2 separate regions of the Homo sapiens genome follow, and region 2 is linked to region 1. Evidence: fine-mapped expression QTL. Tissue or cell type: esophagus muscle. Region 1 holds a variant in brackets; the other region holds the start of a gene. All regions are shown on one strand. Distances are between the middles of the regions.

What was found. PIP is the estimated chance that this variant, and not a neighbour inherited with it, causes the effect.
Region 2: PRDX4 starts here. The variant in region 1 is fine-mapped to the expression of PRDX4 in esophagus muscle (GTEx, PIP above 0.99).

What each region holds. Positions count from the first base shown.
Region 1 is chrX:22,889,044-22,897,432 of GRCh38, reverse strand. The region is part of intron 3 of PTCHD1-AS (PTCHD1 and PHEX antisense RNA); the gene reads left to right. Among named protein-coding and RNA genes, the nearest start is that of DDX53, 110 kb to the left of the region's middle. The variant C/T (reference allele first, on the strand shown) is at 4,650.
Region 2 is chrX:23,663,114-23,671,113 of GRCh38, reverse strand. It overlaps PRDX4 (peroxiredoxin 4), which reads right to left and starts at 3,621. Exons shown (of 7, transcript NM_006406.2): 1 at 3,303-3,621. The coding sequence starts at 3,543. RefSeq lists silencers at 3,159-3,288, 3,639-3,818 and enhancers at 3,568-3,862, 6,106-6,640.

The sequences.
Region 1 (8,389 bases):
AAAAGACTAGGCATAGTGGAAAACGATATTTGTAACACTGATTACTGAAAAAACTGTCATATTCAGAGTATATAAATACTGTCAGAAATCAACATGAAAAAGGCTACGGTGAGGGGGAAAGATGAGCAAATTACATGATTAGTATTTTCATAGAAGAGGAAATTCAAATGAAATGCCATTGAATATATGGAAATGTTTAGATAAAATTACACACTAACTAGAATGACTAAAAATAATGACAACACTAAGTAAAGATGCAGACAACGGGGAATCATTTTGGTTCAATTACTTTGTAAAATAATTTGGCATTACCTAGTAAATTTGAAAATGTGCATACTTGAGGACCCAGTAGTTCCATTCCTAGATGTATAACCTACAAACTCTTGTACATATTCAAGAGGTACACAAAAGAATGCTCATAAGATTGCTATTTGAAATGACAAAAAGACTGAAAACAATACACATATTAAAAATATAATAAGTAATTTGTAGTGTACTTATACAATGGATATTGTTCAGCAGTGAAAAAAGAATGGAATAAAGGCCCAGGCATCTGGGTGGATTAATCTCAGTAACATACCAATATACCAGTGAGAAAAAAAAAAGCTTACAGCCGAATACACTTGTGAGATTCCATAACTTAAATTTCAAAACAAGTAAAACAACAAAAAAATCAAAACAAGGAAAACCAAACAAAATATTGCTCAAACTATTTTTAGTTAGTGTTGATATTTAGTTTACAACTACTACCTTATGTTATAAAACTATAAATAAAAGCAAGGAGATGTTTAACACCAAATTCAGGATATTGAATACCTCTGATGCAAAGATGGAGATTGGGATTGTCAAGGGACAACAGATTTGAAAAAACTAGTGTCTGTTGCTTAAGCAGGATGGTGTAAGTAGAAAGGTGTTGATTTTGCGAAATTATTTTCTGTTCATATTCGCTAAACTGTACATTTATTGTCACACTATTTTGTATACAGGATGTTTTTAAAAATACAAATATCCTATTTGCAAAGTAAAGAATGAAAATGAATAGGACTGAGACCAGACTGCAGGCAAGAACATTGGCTGGGCTACAGGCTGCTGCTGCCAGGGGAGAAATCATCATAGCTGGAGTCAAATAAAGTGGGAATTGGGGAGGTTAGGGGGAGAGGAAAAGGATTTAAAGGGACTATCTGGAGATTAACAGTTAAAAAAAAAAAAAAGTATTTCACACAAACTTAGTGTATAAGTAGTACTTGTCATGGTCTCTCTTTTCTTTTTAAATAAACTTATTAATTGAAGTATAACATACATAGAGAGCAGTGAAGCAAAAGTGTTCATCAGTAAGTTTTATAAAGTAAAAACACGTGTGTAACCGTACTATGCAGAACAAGAAACAGACCATGAACAACACTCCAGAAGCCCCCTTTGTCGCCCCTTCTGATCACCACCACCCCTTCCTGCCCAAAGATTACCATCCTGACTCCTAACATCATGGAATAGTTTCACTTTTTTGGGCTTTACGTAAACGAAGTGGTCAGGTATGTATTCTTTTGTGTCTGGCTTCTCCAACAACATTATGTTGTGTATTTCATGTATTTTCTATGTATAGCAGTATATCATTAATGTTTATTTCTATATAACATTTCGTTGGTTGATCCTACCACAAATATTTATACATTTTACTGTGGCAGAACATTTATGTTGTTTCTTGTTTTGGGTTGTTATGAAGAAAGCTGCAATTAACACTCCTGTGCATGGATTTTTTTGTACATATTTCAGTTGAAAATATATATATGCTTGTGTTCCACTTGTGTAGGTGCTGACGAAAGTGTCAGTTTTACAAAGTAGTTGAGTCCATTTACAATCCTACCAAGAGTTTATGGAATTCCTACTTACTTCATATCCTCATAATATTTTAGATTTTCAGTCTTCTTAAAAATTTGTCATTCTATTCAGTATATGGTGATATTTCGTTGTGGTTTTAATTTGCATTTCTCTGATGATTAGCAACTCAGAACACCTTCACACATATTCGTTGGGTATTTAAATACCCCTTTTCATTCTTGTTTGAATTCTTGGCTATTTTGCTATTGGGTGGTATGTCTTTTTCTGGCCGATTTAAAGACTAATAAAATTGGCAATACTTTTAGTGGAATGTTGAAGAGTAAATTATTAAATTCAGCAAGACAGAAAAAGGAGCAGAAGAGGTACAACTATGACTTAATTCTGGGCCTTACTTTGGTCATCTTTGGAAGAGTGTTAATCTGCCAGTATAAAACAGAATTATTTCTGAAATCGAAAACCAAAATGACTTTCTAGACTCACCTGCTGCACCAGCATTGTATAAAATTGTGGCACATTTTCTAAATCCTCTCTGGCAAATGCGAGAAACTTACCTTTAATTTGTCATTTGTGATTCCTCTTTTGTGTGGGTATTTACTGTCTGTGAGCTTTTGAAAAGTATAGAGAGAAAAAGGCTGAGGATGGGAAGAAAAGAGAGGGGTCTCTTTTAGCACTCTTTTCTGTGCATGATTGCTGATTTGAGAAGTCATAGCAGCCATGGTCTGGGAGATTTTCAGCCTTAGTTCATGAAATTGTCTTTCTAAAATACAATTCTTCTGTATAGTGGGAATATTCCTGTTTCAAAGAGAACGTGAAGGACCATCTTTCCTCTTCCCTAGAAATATTAGTTTGTTCATGATATAAAAATGGACAAGAGTGTTTATTTCTCTCAGAATATCATCTGTTCTTCCAACAAGAAGCACTGTTTAATAATAGACATAATGTCAGTCTTCCCATTTTATAAAGATACTTTTTTTCTTATCCTTTTACTTAACTAGATATCCTACATGGTTTTTGAGAAACTTGCTTGATTTTGCCACATTTTACAGAGGCCTTACAGAATTCCATAAATGTATTTCACAGTCAAAAGTTTCACCAGAACTGGAAGTTAACATGGTTTCCATCTTTCATCAGAATTAGAGAGAGAGAGAGAGAGAGAGAGTGTTAGTGAGTATGTGTTTTAATTCTTGTTGTGTCATCTAATTATACTTTTCCAGTTTAAAAAAAAGTTATAAGGTGTCAAAAATTATGAGGGAGGTGAGGTGCAAGAAAAGGAATAAATCAATCGGTGAATGAATGAAAAAATGCCATGAGTGATTTCATATTAATTCAAATGAAGTAATTTGATAACAAAGGCCTTTATTATGCAATGATAACAGTGATAATACTGATGACAATATTGGTAGATATCTGCTAATGACAGGTATCTTTTCCACCGTGTTTTCTTTGGAGCTTCGTAGTTGCTTTGGAAGGATGTTATTTCGTATAGAATTCTAAAAGAATAACAAATTCTTTGGAAGTTTCATTGAGTGAAGTGGACATGTTGACTATTAATGATGATGATTTTTGACGTAACCTTAGAGAAGAGAAAAGAATGTTTGAAGGGTGGGAAATGGTTTCATCTATTTCGGGAGATAGATAGGTTTGACTTGAGCTGTCATTTATATGAATATGTGCTATAAAGGGCCTGATTTTGATGCTAGTCGAAAGCACCTGACAAGAGTAATTACCTATCACCAGTCCTCTTGGACATTGCATGTACTTTAGTTCTAGTGAGTGGAGCAAATAGAGGGGAAACAGTATCTCTGCACTGAAAAGGTTATATTGTCCAGCATAGGAAAATAAAAATCTACAACCTAACATTGATGTAATTTCAGATTTTTTTTAGTTGGTATTCAGCAACTAAATTTTTGTAAATTTTGGAACTACTAAGTGCCAGGGAATTACACTAGGAATGGGCTCTACTCTCAAGAAGAAATAGAAATGGACATACAAAGAAGGACATTATAACCCAAGTGATATATGTATCAATAGTACTTCATATCTACAAGTTAATCACTGAAAATGTGATTAACTTTCCAGGACGAAGTTGATTAAAAGGAAAGTCATCTGTACTAGATTTTCAAGTGTCTTTAACGTTACCAGGTGAAAAAGGGGGAGAAAAATATTCCAGACAAAGGAAACAGTATTTGCAGAGGTACCAAGATATGAAAAAGCTTGGCATGTTAGAAAAACTACAAGCATTTAGTGTTCTTAGAGGGTGAAGCGTAAGGGAGGATAAATGGATACTTAAGTACAGTGTATAACCTCTTGCTGAGGCCTGAAAAATCCAGTCAAAGTTGGCTTGAAGAACATTAAGAGGAAGGGCTAGTGGCCAGCCATAGTAAGTCTTTTCTTCCCTTTCTACCCCATTTGCTTTCCAATGCAGTTGTACTTATGAGTCAAGATTGAATGTTGTCCCCTAATGAAATGTAATGACAAACAGTTTGAACGTGTTAATAGAGTATGGATAGGCATAATGCATTTGAGATCATGAGGAAACATCAGTAAAGAATATTCAGTGTTTTTTTTTGTTGTTGTTGTTGTTCCAAGTGTTTTCTGACATATTCAAAAAGAAAAAGAGTAAAAATTATTTGAAAAGCAAGTTGGAAAAAAGAAAACTCTGCTCTGGGCCTGCTACAGTGAGAGATCCATCTATACAGATTCATCGTTCTTAAGGAGATAGAAGGATAGCAATGACTGGCATAAGCAAATTTTCCATACTTCAAACTCTCAGAGGATGAGTCACACCAAGTGTCTATCGCACCATGTACCCC[C/T]TGGCCTTTTTTCAACCCTGCTGCTGGGTACCAGGGGAAGGGCAGGATGTGAAAGCTGATGGAATGAAGGCACACAAAGCAAGGTAGTATGCCTCTTGCAGGAACTTTTCTTCACTAAGGCCAACAGGATCTGAAGCGATAAGGCCCTAACTGGAATAATAGGAGTAAGCATGTGATGAGAAACATTTGTCACTAAAAGCAGCAAACTTTCAAGACAAGCTCTGATGCTTCAGATCAGCTAGCAGACACCAGTGTTTCTCTTCGTATGTAGAAGACAAAGTATGATTAAAACGTGCACTTGACGGATAAGCTACTTCACTAGGTTTTTACAAAGATTGTATGAGATAATATATGTAAAATCCTTAACACAATGCCTGGCACAAGGGAAATGCTCTGCATAGATAGTAAATATCATCTTATTCTTCATCTCACCATTAATTTTTGTTTTTATTTTGAGAATTGAGGCTCAAATTAATACATACTATTAACAGGTACAGAGGTCTTTCTGTTTTGATAAATATTTTTATATTCTAATGATGTTAATACATAAAGTTTAAGTAGTAATTTAGTTAAGTAATCTATGCATTAATCTTGAAGTCATAGTTAATTGAAATATTTGTATATCCCATAAGTACAAAGTAAAGATGTAGTGGCAGTGTACAGTATCAAGATCAGTAACAGTAGTGGAGATGGCAATTCTATGAGGGAGGGAAATATTGATAAATCTAAAAACAGAACCTATAGAGATAACTCCCCACTATGTCTGTGGGAGTGCCAAAGAAGAGAATGTGATAGATGTCTTAGAGGCAGAATTGACAGGATTTGATGACAAAATTTAAATAAATTTTGGAAAAGGAGGCAATCAAGATGAATCCTAGCTTGCTGCTCTTTAGTGAACTGAGAAAACAAAGGATGAAGATCACTTGGAAGCCTCTTGTGAATGGAGGTCCTGGTAGAGGGCTTGGAATTGGGTGCAGATCTCAGAAACAAATGTCAGGACTGGACACACAGGCTTGGGGTCATTTGCAAGAGATTATAGTCCTTGACACACTATGTTTTAGTGTTTTATTTTAAAGGACACAAAAATCTGAATAAAATGTGGATTTATACCTTTTTTTTTTTTTTTTAAATCACATTTACAATAAACTTTAATGGTGAATCAATGCAACCCAAAGCCAAGGTAGCCCTCTCCATTTGGTGATAAAATATTTGGATGAGAACAAAATAAAAATAACCATCATTTCTAGCATTGACCAAGTAAAATCAAATATAGTAGATGGTACTTCTTTTAAAAGAATTTAAAAATCTAGCAGAACGTGACAGAGTATTTTGTGTAAGGTATTCTTCCCCTCAGTATTTATTTATTAAAATTATAATTTTCAACCTATCTTTCCTTGAGGAATATTTGATGTTAAGGAACAGAAACCTATTCAGAGAAACTCAGATTAAAACTGAGTATACTGCAAGGATACAGGGATTCTCCGGAAATCTGATTACTGGAGTATAGCATGCCTTCACAGATTAGAATCCAATTATGTAATATGTTTTAGCTTTAGGTTTCAATAAAGCCATATCCACCAAAGCGTTCTTGTTAAGGGATGCATTTTAAATTAAATAAATGTTAATATATGTGGTACTACAATGCCGTGGGGACTATACCATTAGCAAATGTGAAATATCTCATCACCTGATTAAGAATGCACAGTGTTTTAGAAGTCCTCCATAGCAGCCATCTTATTTAGTCAGATTGCCCATTAATGCTTTGTTAAGATTATAGTCATCTTGAATTCTCACAACACTTATGACCTTCCAAGGACAGACTATGTTTAGTCACTGGGTTGTATTAACTGCTATTAACATCAGTGCTTATCTGAGATCTTCATCAGTTACAGCTGAAATGTGTGAGATGTACCTGCACACAGATGTGTTGGACTAATGGCCAGAAGGCAGCAAACCCTACCATTTTCCTTGTTATTTAAATATTTTTAATTCTGTCTCTGATGGCTTCCCCTGTCACCTCATGAGTAAGTAGGGCTAATACTGGCTGCAGCAAAATCACACTCTCCATTTATCATACTAATTGCAGTTTAATGAGGAGAGGCCCGAGGCTGGAAGACTTGTCTACGTAGAATACTATTGGAGTGGAGTTTATTATGGTTATTAGTACAGCCTGCGATAATTAAATTGCTTTACTAGATAGGTACTGTATTTATCATAAAGATTCACTATAGCAAAACTTTTGATGATATTCAAAGAGCAGTTTTGAAAGTCAAGTTCTCTGACGTTTTCTTTAGGAGAAATTCTAGTTTGGATCCCATTTTCCAATATTTCTCCTCAGAGCAGGACTGGCTACATCATCTGTGAAGCCCAGTTCAAAATGGAACTGCAGGGCCTCTTGTTGAACAAGCACAAAGGAAGTGTTAAAATATAAAGCTTTCTTCTTTCTTCTACGTATCCTCTTTGCTATTATGCATAATGCATACTTCATGGTCCCATTGGACTTTACTTGTAAAACACAAGTTCAAAGATAAAATCATTAAACATTTCAAAATAATGACAGCATGCAGCTCATCTGAGTGTGGTATCCTGTGTGAGTGCACAGACTGCACTTCTGTGAAGCTGAAAGAAAGAAGTGTAAATGGCAAACCATTTTTACAGAGTTGAGACTGAGCTAATCTTTTGCTAGACCTTGTCATGCAATATAGTATGAAGGAAGCCCAGTCAAATTTGGGAAACAGACAACTGGAGCTGAGGTTGGGGATAACCTTGAGGGCAACCAGGACAATGAAAACGAACCGGCAATAAGGACTAGTAACTTCCGTCTCAGTCAGGAAGCTGCCTGTTTCCTGCAAAGGCAGGAAGTCATTCCAAGATGTAGTCACATTAAAGTCCTTAGGAGGGAAAAAAAGAGCTAAGATAAAAGAATGAGAAGTAGTTTAAATTAACCAATAATTAAAGGTAGCTACTGTATTAACACAAACATGCTAGCATATTCCAACTGAATAATAAAATTTTCCAGATTTTCTGTTTTTTCCCTTCATGCACATTATTTAAATATTGCAGAATGCACTTGAATAAAAATATTCTAAACTGTATTGAAGAAGGTGGAGTGGTTTGTGTTGTGGCTAAACTGGGTTTTTCTTTGTTTAGTTTGATGACTAATCTCTTTCCTAATCATTGGACAAACTCAATAGGACCTAGTACATTATCCCACACATAAATGAAGTCGGTAAATGTTTATGGAAATAATTATATATAATTTACTCTCTACAATGAGTGACTAGTAGGCCTCTTAGGAATATGTTCCCAGGTACTGAACACTCATTGAAATCAGAGCACTAAAAGTACTCTACTTCCACTATGAAGTGGAAGGCAGATATTGTCCAAATATGGAACACCAGTAATAAATAAGCAAACAATGGCTCAGCTGAGAGACTATTCTGCTCTAATTTCCTGATGTAAGTTGTTATTTCACTGGTGAGTAACATCTTCTTGTCACAACATCATTTATAATAATAATAATGATGATCACACAGAATCACCTGTGAATGTCCTAGTCCCCATAGTTTAATATAGAACATCACTCAAATTTAAGTGAGGTCTTTGTTAAGTTCTGTAAATTGAGCTTATAAAGACAAACACTATTTGGAATATTTTTTGATGGCTTGATGGAGAAAGACATCTATTTATTCACTCAACAGTTATTTATCAAGTGCCTGAACAGTACTAGACCCTAAGAA
Region 2 (8,000 bases), 770 kb before region 1:
GTGTAGTTTGTTGCTGACATTCATAATAGAAGGAAACACTAAATTTCAGATGGGGATTAGTGAAAATAAATACTTTTTTCCCCTATTCATGCTCACAGACCCCTTAAATTCTACCCTGCACTAAACCCTCCTGGATACTTCACTATAGTCCCGCTTCAAGTTGTCAACTTCCTACATTTCAAATAATTAGATTTTCCTTTCTCTAATGGCAGTCTTCCAGATGTACTAGTTTGTCCAGCTTCTGACATACACATGGAGGACCTGCTGCAGATGAGGCTACACAAAATGAGGAGGGAATGTACAAATATGTCAGGCCAGAAGTGTAAAATCCCAGACCATGGGATCATTTTCCTAGAGGGCTTTGAAAGAAGACTCCCTTGAACAGGTTTCAAGTGACCCAATGGAAACTGAACAGTTCATGCTGCTCTCTTGTAAGGGCGTACAGTAATTTTAGCCAACACACTTAGATACTAATGCACCTTCATGCTCTGTTAACACATTCAGATAGCACTTATACTTTCAGACCCCTTACAAACACTGAAGTCAATGCTTGCTTCTAAGTTTGGCTAAGGGTCCTAGAAAGTAAGGCTTATACTTCTCTGTAACAGCCACCATTTATGGTCACTCCAAAATAGAGACAAACAACATGAATTTCTCTTAAAAATTAATATATAACATATGATTACTTATCTTGAGCCAGCATCCTACCTCATATATATAATCCTGATCTGATTAGGTAAAGGCCAGGAGGGAGAAATAGACAGCAGAAGAGTATTCAATTATATATACTTTAAATAAATTACTTAAAATGCTACTCAAGTGAGAGGTTATAATAATTGTAATGATCTATTACAATGACACGCCTTAATGATTTTAGCATACTGGGAAAACCATATTTGAAAAATAAATTTTGTTCTGAAAATTGATTTTGGAAATATTTGGTTAAGAATGGTAGTTACTTTGCTAAGATCTATAAATGGAATTCCCAAAGCAATCCCTTGCATTTATTAAAAAAACAAAAATTGTCTTGAATATAAATTATGTAATTAACATAAAGATTCTGGTAAATGCAGAGAAGTACAAAGAATACTTAAATCCTCTCTCTCCATAACTCCCATCAACTACTGTTAACATTCTGATGTCTGTCTTTCTAGTCTTATTTTTTTTAATTTTAGTTATTTACTTTTTTTTTTTTTGAGACAAGAGTCTCAGTCTGTCGCCCAGGCTGGAGTGCAGTGGTGTGATCTGGGCTCACTGCAACTTCCGCCTCCCGGGTTCAAGGGATTCTCTTGCCTCAGCCTGCCCAGTAGCTGGGATTACAGGTATGCGCCATCACACCCGGCTAATTTTTGTATTTTTAGTAGACACAGGGTTTCACCATGCTGGCCAGTCTGGTCTCGAACTCCCGACCTCAGGTGATCGGATGGCCTCGGCCTCCCAAAGTGCTGAAATTATAGACGTGAGCCACCACACCTGGCCTTTCCGTTCTTTTTTAAACACAAATTTGCCACGTGTTGCATCCCGCCTTTTTTTTCTCCTTAAAGGAAACAGTAAATTAATTATGAACAGTTTTTGATATTACTAAAAATTATTTGAAAATATGGCCTTAATGGCTCCATAATAGTCTTTACTAACAAAAGTCTTTGTATCTTTAATTATAGATAAGCCTACATGTGACAGAGAAATGTAGTAAACAACTAAAATGTTAAGTTTTGCTGGTAAAGGGAAAGCTTTGAAGTAGATTTGTTTCCTATGGAAAATATATGTAATGTAAGTAAACACTTAACTGGCTGACATATTTAAAATACTTTCCCAGGCAAGTAAAACCAGTGGGACTTGGAAATACTGATTTTAAAATTTAAGACTGGTTTTGTTAAAAATCTCAAAGTAGGCTGGGCACCGTGGCTCACGCCTGTAATCTCAGCACTTTGGGAGGCCAAGGCAGGCGGATCATGAGGTCAGGAGTTCCAGACCAGCCTGGCCAATATAGTGAAACCCCGTCTCTACTAAAAATACAAAAAATAGCCGGGTGTGGTGGTGCGCGCCTGTAGTCCCAGCTACCTGGGAGGCTGAGGCAGAAGAATCGCTTGAACCCGGGCGGCGGAGGTTGCAGTGAGCCGAGATCGCGCGACCGCACTCCAGCCTGGGTGCCTGGGTGACAGAGCAAGACTTCATCTCAAATAAAAAAAAAAAAAAAGTCCCAAAGTGGTTAACTGAAAGTACTTACTTTCAGCAAGTAAGAACTGTAAATGTTTAAGAGGACAAAACAGTTTTTCTCATTTATCACTCCCAACCAACCCATCCTAAGTCATAACAACATTCCATTTAACTCTAGGGATTCAGAATTTGAAGCATTACTTTTTTCACTGAATACTGGCATGGAACATGCTGTAACTGAACCATAAAAACCAACTACACACCTACAGAATGTCAAATGATCTGCAGGAAAAGCAGGTTACTGAATAGCAAGCAAGAGACAGCCTTTATCTATAGCCACTGTTCACTTTTGGTTAATTTTAACATCCAGATGTAGCAGGCTACAACTTTCACAGTATCTACTTCGTCTGACGTGTCATTCCTGAAAGTGGCCATTAGCTTTGTACACTGGACAGAAATGCAAATAATCAAAAACCAAATTGGCAGGACACAAATTTGCCACGAGGTTTATCATCAACCCAAATGCATACTTCTAACCTTTTCCCCCATTTCCCTCAAAAGTACACTCTGTAATAGGTTCTTCATGTCTGAGAAACATAAGGAATATCCATTAACTACACAGGCTTTGGGGAAGGTGGCTTTCAGTAATAATCTTTGTAAGATGCAAACAAAAAGGAAGAAAGAAAAATGAAATGTTTGACCTCCCGAGCACTGTGTTTAGCAACTTTTCTGTTTAATCAAACTTTTTGTGAATCATTATTCAACCTATCAATGTCTTCCTTCGCTGAAATAGTACCTGAAAAAGACAGGATGTGCTGAAGGCACTTTGAGATGTTTCAGGAACTGTTTCAGTTTGCCCAACATCCTCGATGCAAACTCGGGACTAGGGCCACCCACTTTCCCTCAGCTGCGGCTTTTGGGGTAACCACTACCTCTTCTAAAATCTGATCAGTGGAAACCATACCTTTCTTCACAGCTAGAACTCCCCTTTATTCCCCTCCCCGCCCTCCTAGGTGAGAACCAGGCCCGCCCAGGGCCCGGAGGCAGCCCAGGGGGTGCCGCCCAAGCCCAGATTCCGGGGGTGTAACCGGGGTACACGTGTCTCCGGAATCTCCCCTCCCACCCTTTGGCGGGACACCACCTACTCTTCGCTTTGCTTAGGTGCAGGGAGTGGTCGGCGACCGATACCCGGGATGCCTCTCCCGGGTACACTTGTCCACCCGCGTAGAAGTGGCACTCCTCTTCGCGAGTCCGGGGCCTCTCCTCTGTCTCCCAGCCCTGCACAGCTCCAGCCGGCAGCAGGAACAGCAGTAGCGGCAGCAGAAGCAGCCTTCGGTGGCGGCCGTGGTCCGGAGTTGTCGCGGCTAGCAGCGGCAGCGCCTCCATGACCACGCGAGCGCAGAAACACGTCCCTTGGCGCGAGCGCCGCTTCTGCCGCCGCCGGGCAGCTACAACCGCGTGCACGACGCCCGCGCGAACCGGGGCGCGGCCTCGCGAGACCAGCTCCTCCCCCTACCCCCCCTATCTGCTCCCCGCCCCGCCACGTGGGCGCCGGCCGCACCTCCCCCATCCCAAGCCTGCATTTGCGCCTGCGTCCCGCGGCTGACCAGGACCGGGAGCGTTGCCCAACTCTGTGAAGGCAGCGACAAGGTCTCCTGACCTCCGCGCTGTTTTAGACATCTTTCCACGTCCATCTCTTCCACAAAGCCTCACCACTGCACACAAGCCCCTCACAAGCGGAATCTAACCTATATGCTTGTGAATGGCTTGCATTTTATACTTCTAATAAGCTTTTTAAAAAGTCACTTAACGTTTTTAAAAATTATATTTACTTGACAAATCATAATTGTATACATTCGTGGGATGCAATGTGATTTTTTGAAATATGTATCCAATGTGGGATGATTACATCACATTAACTTATCCATCGCCTTGTTTACCTATGACTTTTATGGTGAGACATTTCAAATTTACTCTTATTCATTTTGAAATATACATTATTATTGACTGTATTTACCCTGCTGCTTACCAGAGGTTGGGAAGTAGGGAAGGCGAGGCGAGAGGGAAGGAATGGGGAGTTAGTTGTTGGTCAGAGGTTACCAAGTTCCAGATAGACAGGAATAAGTTTCAAGATCTAATAGACATTTACTAATTTTTTTTCTTGAAGTGATTTGTGTGAACGGGGCCATGATCTGCACTACTTGCAGCTCTTTTAAGTCCTGGAAAAACTTAGGGAGGGTAGGTCTAACCATTTACTTTCCTCCAGCATGCAAGGGCGTACAGGCAGTTTTTAGTGACCTAATCTATTGTTTCAAAGACAGCTTTTTTTTTTTTTAATTTAAATGAAGACTTGAAAAGTTACCAGAAAACTCTCCCAGCAGTGTTGTTCCTTTTTCTGACAATTACCCCATCACCCAACCCCTGGCCTTTTCCCTGCCCTCCCCACCCATCTCCCCGCCGTGGGCACCGCCCCGCTTGCCGCTGCAACCTGCCGTGTGCGTCTGCGCACTGGGGGCAGGCCCAGGCCACCGAGCGTCCACCAACTGGACTAAGACCACCTTGTGTCGTCACTTGTGACCGATCTTCTGCACTCCCACCCTCAGCACTGTTTTAGACCCTGTTCATCCTTCTGGGCCCATCTTGTACACAAAACTTCGCAGGTGACTGGCCTCGCGCCCTCAGCACTGTTGTAGGCCTTCTCATCCTTCACACCTATTTCTTCCACAAAGCTTCGCCCATGGCTGTCTTCCCACCATTGAAGTGCCAACGACCCTCGCCGCCAGCACTTGTTAGACATCCTTCCACGCCCATCTCTCCCAAAAAGCCTCCTCATCCCACGCCACCCCCGCCCCTCAAAGGGAAACTGACCTTTCTGCCTCTGAATAGCTCGCGTTTTATCCCTCTAACAGACATTTCTTATTCTTTTCCTTGCAGTGATCTTTGTGAACAGCCATGACTCCTCTCTCAAGTCGGAGCCCTTTTCAGGTCCCCAGAAAACTTGGAGAAGAAAAGTCTAACCTGAAAAGCCATATCCCTAGACCATTTCTTCTCTTCCAGCTGGAAAGGAACTATGGGGCAAACAGGCAATGTTGCAACTTAACCCTGTGTTAGGTTGTTTTTTTTTTTTTTTTTTTTTTTAGACAGAGTCTCGCTCTGTCGCACAGGCTGGAGTGCAGTGGCAATCTCGGCTCACTGCAACCTCCACCTCCCAGGTTCAAGTAATTCTCCTGCCTCGGCCTGCCGAGTAGCTGGGATTACAGGTGCGCGCCACCATGCCCAGCTAATTGTGATCCGCCCACCTTGGCCTCCCAAAGTGCTGGGATTACAGGCATGAGCCTGTATGATCCCAGGGTGCCCTCTGTCCTCCTGCAAGTGCTTGTTATCTTTCTTTTTAAATTAAAAAAAATTTTTTGTGGCTACATAGTAGGTATATGTATATATATATGTATATGTATATATATATATTTATGGGGTATATGGGATATTTTGATTCAGGCACACAGTGTGTAACAATCACATCATGGCAAATGGGTTATCCATCACCTCAAGCATTTATCATTTGTGTTACAAACAATCCAATTATACTCTTTTAGTTATTTTAGGGTATACAATTAAATTGTTATTGACTATAGTCACCCTGTTGTGCTATCAAATACTAGGTCTTATTCATTCTATATTTCTGTACCCACTAACCATCCCCACTTTCCTCCCCAGCCCCCCACTACCCTTCCCAGCCTCTAGTAACCATTCTTCTACTCTCTATCTCTATGAGTTCAATTGTTTTAATTTTTAGCTCCCACAATTAAGTGAGAACATGTTAAGTTTGTTTTCTGTAAGCACCTGTTATCTTTCTGAATCCTGCAGAAACCATCCTAAGTTTGTCTTTCCTCTACTAGACTGTGGGCTGTCTGGGGCTGAAATCAATGTGTAATAGGTCTTTGTTTCCCAAAGAACCTGGCCCACAGTAAGCAACTGACATTGCAAACACCTGATTTTATAAATAACACCTAATATTGCAGACAGCCTCAGTTTCAAGTTGCTTTCACATATTTTATCCTTACTCCTTGTGAAACAATCTTTTGTGGCAGATAGAAAATTTCCCCTTTCCAAACTCATCCCTCACCCTAGTTCTGCCCACTGTATACTCTGCTTTCTGCCTCCCGGCCCCTGCTTCCTGGAGGTAAAGGATGAAAAAGATGATGCCAGCCTCCTTCTGCTGAGGGAGGGTGTGTCCTTACCCATAACATTATCTGGCAGCTCTTCACTTTCTGGTGGCTCATAGATAGGAGGCCTCTGACGAGGTGGCTCTCGCTCCCAGTCTTCTCCTTCCCTGGCCTCCTGTTGCACGTGGAAGGGGAGTGGGACTCGGGGGGCTCGGGACTGAGTCCCAGGGATTCGGTTCAGGCCTGTGCCCCGTAGTCGGCTTCGGTGATCCATGGTGACTGTTGGACAAACAGCCACAAACCTCAGTGAATTCTAGGCCCAAAACTGGGCCTCTAAGTTTGGACCTGGGAAAGGAAGCTTGAGGAAAGCGTTATGTCCCTACACGTCTTTGCTCTGGGCTGAGCTGAGATGCCCTAGCTGGCAGCAGAGACTGCCCACCAAGTGGGCCCCTGTGGCCCACTGGAGAGAGTGACCAGATCGGCCAGCTCTCAGGCACCTACTGTTCGTCCCTCAGTTCTGTTGGAGCTCCCTGGCAACTGACATTCTGGGTGGCAGTTGCTCTGAATCCTTTCATCCAATGATATTTGTGCAGACATTGTGATATCACAGTGACATCAACAAGGAAGCTTGAGGTGGGGGCCCTGCCCTCAAGATACTTACCATCCAGCTGGAGTCAGTAGCCCATATTAATAATACAAAACCATCAGAGACAGGGGGCAGGTTCCAAATCCAGGATGCACCTCAGAAACACTTGGGGAGCTTAAAAACATTCTGTCTGGGCGCGGTGGCTCACGCCTGTAATCCTAACACTGTGGGAGGCCAAGAAAGGCGGATCACTAGAGGTCAGGAGTTCAAGACCACCCTGACCAACATGGTGAAACCCGGTCTCTACTAAAAATACAAAAATTAGCCGGGCGTGGTGGTGCACACCTGTAATCCCAGCTACTCAGGAGGCTGAGGCAGGAGAATTGATGGAGCCTGGAAGGCGGAGATTACAGTGAGCCAAGATTGCGTCACTGCACTCCAGCCTGGGCAACAGAGTGAGACTCCGTCTCAAACAAACAAAAAAACAAAACCAACCAACCAACCAACAAAACCATTCAAGTGCTGTGATTACAGGCCCAGAAGTGATGTTTCCTTCTTTTTTTTGAGATGGAGTCTCGCTGTGTTACCCAGGCTGGAGTGTAGTGGCATGATCTCAGCTTGCTGCAACCTCCGCCTACCGGGTTCAAGCAATTCTCCTACCTCGGTCTCCCGAGTAGGTGGGATTACAGGCACACACCACCATGCCTGGCTAATTTTTTGTATTTTTTTAGTAGAGATGGGGTTTCACTGTGCTGGCCAGGCTGGTCTCGAACTCCTGACCTCGTGATCCGCCCGCCTCGGCCTCCCAAAGTGCTGGGATTACAGGCATGAGCCACCGTGCCTGGCTTAGAAATGATGTTTCAATAGGTTTTTGGGAGGCCCCAAGCATTTTTGGTTTCACAAATGGGCACAAATAGGTTTCACAAATGGGCAAATTAAGAACCACCACTGATGGTAGTTAAAAGCACAGGTTGTGGAGTCAGGTATTTTTAAATTCAAATAGGAGCTCTGCCATCTATTGGCCTTGTGGCCTTGGTAAGTTTATTCAACCTCTCTGAGCCTCAGTGTGTTTATCTGCACATGGAAGACAGTAA